Linked DNA regions of Homo sapiens: region 2 is linked to region 1. Evidence: fine-mapped expression QTL. Tissue or cell type: subcutaneous fat. Region 1 holds a variant in brackets; the other region holds the start of a gene. All regions are shown on one strand. Distances are from middle to middle.

Region 1 (2,500 bases):
TGATTGTTGTGTGGCATATGCCCATGAGAATTTGTTTAACTGTTTTTGTGAAGAAAAAAAATATATAAACTATAGATTTTCTGTCATAAATCCTTCTTTCTGAATTTTAACCTAATTGTAAAGCAAAATAGGTAATAAAGTTTCACTATTGTTTATTTATTACAAGGCATTGTAATTGAACTTTTAAATCAACTCATACGATCTCCTTGCTCAGGAAGGAAAATCATAAAAATAGAAAAAAGCTTGCTTTATTTTGGTGCTGGGGATGGTTTCAAGTCTTTTTTCAGTTTTATGTAGAGACCAAGAAAGTGTTCTGCATAGGGAGCCAAAGAAAAAAATATTGAGAAACTTTCTAAAGTATCTTAACTCAGTTGTTTATAGTATAGCTTTACTTTACAGATAACTTTTGATGTTCTTAGATCATTAGATATACCTACATCAATATACATAAGATAAGCTTCCAAAGGAAATACTCTTTGCTTTGGGAATACTCTTTCCTATCATCTACTAATTTTCATTATAGCAGCAGTCTTTTATTTGTATAGGTCAGTGGTTCTTTAACTTTAATGTGCAGTAGAGTCCCCTGATGCTGGGCCGGGCCCCACCCAACACCTGTTCCTGTTTCAGATAAAGACCAGAGAGAGGTATGTGTACGTATCTAAGAGTGAGCACAACCAAAGCTGTATAAAACCTTCATGGAGGAAATTACAGAACATTACTGTTGGATATAATAGACATGAATAGAAGAATATACCAGCTTTGATAATGTGATACCTCTATTTAAGATGTTATTTCTCTCTAAATTAATTCATTACATATCAAATTAAAATACCAATAAGGGCTGGGCGCAATGGCTCACGCCCATAATCCCAGCACTTTGGGAGGCCGAGGTGGGCAGATCGCTTGAGTCCAGGAGTTTGACACCAGCCTGGGCAACATGGCGAAACCCTGTATCTACTAAAAATACAAAAAAATTAGCTGGGCGTGGTAATGCCTATCTGTAGTCCTAGCTACTTGGGGCTGATGAAGGAGGATTGCTTCAGCCTGGGAGGTCGATGATGCTGCAATGAGCCCTGGTCCAGCCTAGGCGACGGAGTGAAACTCTGTCTA[A/AAAATAAAT]AAATAAATAAATAAATAAATAAATAAATAAATAAATAAAGTAATCCCAGTAAGTTTCTTGTGAAGACCGAAGGTAAGTGAACCTAAAATTCACAAAGAAAATCAAAGGGCCAGGAGTAGCCAAGACAATCTTGAAGAGCAAGGTAGGGACCTTGCCACTTTAGATATAGATGCCAAGCCCTAGAAATTAAGAGACTGTGGTCGTGATACAGAGATAGACAAAAAGACCAGTGGAACAGCATGGAGAATCCAAAAACATATATAGAAATGCAATATGCAGTGAAAGTAACATTATAAATCATCAGGGACGTATGGAATGCTAATTGCTGCTTTGATCATTAATTATATGGAAAATGAAATTGTATTTATAACTTCACACTATCCACAAAGATAAATTCTGGTGAATAAATTCAGAAAGCAGATCTTAAATTTATTAGAAAATATAAGAAATAATAAAATACTTAGCTGCTGTTAAAATGTAAAAAGCACATGTATCTTCATGTATAAATCTTAGAAATAGTGTAACATTGAGGATAAAATCAATTTGTATGGTTATGATAAAGTACCACTCATACAAAATGAAAAGCATGAAATGATACAGTTTTTTATAAAACATGAAAACATGCATGGTAATATACATCACATTCAAGATAATGTTTGCTTCTTTTATTAATTTTTTTTTTTAATTTGAGACGATGTTTCACTCTTGCTCAGGCTGGAGTGCAGTGGTGTGATCACAGCTCATTGCAGCCTTGACTCCCTGGGCTCAAGTGATCCTCCCACCTCAGCCTTCCAAGTAGCTGGGACTACAGGCATGTGCTACCGTGCCTGGCTAATTTTTGTATTTTTTGTAGAGAGAGCCATGTTGCCCAGGCTGGTCTTAAACTCCTGAGCTCAGGCAGTCCTCCTGCCTCGGCCTCCCAAAGTGCTGGGATTACAGGCATTAAGCCACCGTGCCCGGCCAGCGTTTCCTTCTGGAAATCGTAGAGGGATGTGATTAGTGAGGGATATGTGCAGGCTACAACTGTAACTAAAGTTTTATATTTTTAAATAAAAATGTTTTAAAGCAACATGTGACAAAACATTAACACCAAATGAATATCAAACAACAAAGAAATAGTTGAAGAAATTGTGGCATCTATATACTATGAAATATTTTTCAGCCATTAAAAAGAAGGAGTTGTAGCTAGGTCATTTTTATGGAGGGACTTTCAAGAATTATTAAGTGAAGAGAACAAGACACAGAAATATGTTTATAAAATCATCTCAGTTTTATAATGTAGTAATATATAATGAGCATATATTATATATGCTTGTGTATGACCAAAATATGAACATGAAAAAATATGGAAAGATTCATTCTAGGCTGTTAACATGAGAGATAACAGTC
Region 2 (3,038 bases), 100 kb before region 1:
TGGCTTACGCCTATAATCCCAGCACTTTGGGAGCCCGACGCAGGTGGATCACTTGAGGTCAAGTGTTCGAGACCAGTCTGGCCAACATCATGAAACCCCATCTCTACTAAAAATGCAAAAAATTACCCAGGCATGGTGGCAGGCACCTGTAATCCCAGCTACTCGGAAGGCTGAGGCAGGAGAATTGCTTGAACCCAGGAGGTGGAGGTTGCAGTGAGCCAAGATCACGCCATTGCACTCCAGCCTAGGCGACAGAGTGAGACTCCATTTCAAAAAAAAAAAATAAATAAATAAAGATTGTCTTTGTGGCCATGTTTATGAGAGACTGTTGGAGACGGAGATCAGAGATTGAGAAACTATCAGTTTAGTTTTCTCCAGCCGTCTAAGTAAGAGACAAAAAGACATGAACTAGATGCGGTTATGAAAGAGAACAGATTGAAAGGCACAGCAAAGGTGGAGTACTTGGTGGAGGTGGGGCCTGGATAAGGTTTGGCTATGTCTCCACCCAAATCTCATCTCAAATTGTAATTTGAATTGTAATCCCCACCTGTCGAGGGAGGGACCTGGTGGGAGGTGATTGGATTGTGGAGGTGGTTTCCTCCATGCTGTTCTCATGATAGGGAGCAAGTTCTCACAAGATCTGGTGGTTTTATAAGGGGCTCTTCCCCTTTTGCTCTCTTCTCTCTTGCCTGTGCCATGTAAGACATGCCTGCTTCCTCTTCTGCCATGATTATAAGTTTCCTGAAGCCTTCCAAACCATGCAGAACTGTAAGTCAGTTAAACCTCTTTTCTGGCCGGGCACGGTGGCTCACGCCTGTAATCCCAGCACTTTGGGAGGCCGAGGCAGGTGGATCATGAGGTCAGGAAATCGAGACCATCCTGGCTAACATGGTGAAACCCCGTCTCTACTAAAAATACAAAAAAAATTAGCCTGGCATGGTGGCGGGCACCTGTAGTCCCAGCTACTTGGGAGGCTGAGGCAGGAGAATGGCGTGAACCTGGGAGGCAGAGCTTGCAGTGAGCTGAGATCGCGCCACTGCGCTCCAGGCTGGGTGACAGAGCAACACTCCAACTCAAAACAAACAAACAAAAAAACAAACAAAAACAAAAAAAACACTATTTTCTTTATAAGTTACCAAGTCTCAGGCAGTTGTTCATAGCAGTGTGAAAACGGACTAATATAGGCCTAATAACAACTCACCCACCCTTGCTAAGGGCTTGTCCTGGGTTTTAGAATCTGGAGATGAAGTTTCTTCATGGCTTTCCCTCTGCCTGGAATATGTATTTGTTCTTGTCCTGACCCTTAGTCATTGCTTTTCTAGCCTCTTCAAGGCCAGTCTTGAGTCCCACCTTAAAATCAAGAGAAGAATGGATAAACTGGCACATCTGTACAATGGAATATTACCGTTAGAATAAGAGAAAATGGGGACCAGGACTGTAAATCTCTTCAGCAGACAAAGCCAGTTAAGCCTTGGACACAAACTTGACCTTGATAAGCTAAACTTAACTTGGACTATTTTTTTTTTTTGTAAATACCTGCATTAAAGCAAAATGAAGTTTAAGTTCAATCAGTAGCCACCAACTGACTTATATAACAAGGGACTTGGCGGGGGGGAGACCAAATAAGGCAACTACACAGTCATAACCAAGCCATTATTTTCTTTGCCTTGCTTCCAAGTTACAAAAGCCTTTTCCTTGCATTCTCTTGGTAGAGCCCTGAACCACTCTTGGTTTGGAGCTGCCCAATTTGTGAATTGCTGTTTGCTCAAACCCTTTAAAACATTTAATAGGACTTGACTTATCTTTTAACACTACGTAGTAATAAAAAGGAACAAACCACTGATACATGGAACAACTTGGGTGAAACTCAAATCATGCTGCAATAAGCCAGATCAAAAGAGTGCATCCTATATGATTCTATTCATATGAAGTTCAGAAACAGGAAAAACTAATCTATAATGAGAAAAAAAAAATAGTGGTTACCTCTGGGGGTTGGGGTTGAGGACTGACTGGAAAGGGGTAAGAGGGAGTTTTCTAGGGTGATAAGAGATTGGGTTATAGAAAGGTATATGCCATTATCAAAACCTGTAGGATGTTATCCTTAAGATCTGCATTTCATTATGTAAATTTTACCAAAAAAGTGAACTACAGTTAATAGGCAAGCTGAAGAATGTAGGCATGAAGAATAGTGATATCTGTAACTTTAAAATGCGTCAAAATATAGGATGGATAGATGGATGGCTCCATATGTGATAAAGCAGAGATAGCAGTGTTAATGATAGGATCTAGGTGATAGGTAAATGGGTGCTTACTGTACAATTCTGTCAACCTTTCCGTGTGCTTGAATTAGTCATTATAAAATGTTGAGGGGTATGGCATGGTGGGGGAGGGGGAGGAATCCCTAGTCTAAGTTTTGCCAATTCACATATCAAAAGTAAAGACAACTGGCAGTGAGAAGTCAACCTGTGGACAGTGAATCAGGTCAACTAGAAGCCTCCTAACTCCTTGTCTCTGGCCTTTTGGAGGGGAACATGACTAGGCACTGAAAAAGAGGCAGTCTAATTCAGGATCCCTTTCCCTAATTACTTTAGCTGGTAGGTGCTGAAAAAAATCTCTCTTCCCCCCAGGTTTTCCTGACCTCCAGCACCATGAAGTCTTTTCCTCCTTGCAGACAAAACTCTATCCCTTTAGGCTTTGTCTTGTGTTTGTCTTTGTTAGGGCTCCTAGGCAAAGTAGAGACCATCTAATTTTTTCTTCTGATTAGATTTCACATTTGATTATCTACTACAAAGCTATTTGAAATATCACACACCAATGTGTTTTGTCTTTTTTTTTTTTTTTAAGAAAAAGTTTCAACAGAAATGTCACTGTATTTACAGAGTAACTTCCTGGTACACATGAGGTCAGCTGGGGAACAGAAAGGACAGGAGCAGATGATTAGAAACGGTCATTAAAGTAATTCCCCCGGGTAACAGGAACAGCACTTCATGTGGTTTATAGGCCTTCTTTCTTCTGTTTGGCCAGGGGCTTTATTCCCC

Direction of the effects. Positions count from the first base shown, and alleles are read on the strand shown. Sizes are in standard deviations (SD) of each study's normalised expression.
For the expression in subcutaneous fat of the gene that starts at base 1,322 in region 2, allele AAAATAAAT in region 1 goes with a lower level than allele A (moderate effect, 0.66 SD a copy in FUSION).

The links. PIP is the estimated chance that this variant, and not a neighbour inherited with it, causes the effect.
Region 2: it holds the start of LINC01337, and the variant in region 1 is fine-mapped to the expression of LINC01337 in subcutaneous fat (FUSION, PIP 0.92).

The regions. Positions count from the first base shown.
Region 1 is chr5:80,721,984-80,724,483 of GRCh38, forward strand. The region is part of intron 8 of MSH3 (mutS homolog 3); the gene reads left to right. Among named protein-coding and RNA genes, the nearest start is that of DHFR, 68 kb to the left of the region's middle. The variant A/AAAATAAAT (reference allele first, on the strand shown) is at 1,111.
Region 2 is chr5:80,621,203-80,624,240 of GRCh38, forward strand. LINC01337 (long intergenic non-protein coding RNA 1337) reads right to left here and starts at 1,322. Exons shown (of 2, transcript NR_125754.1): 1 at 1,206-1,322.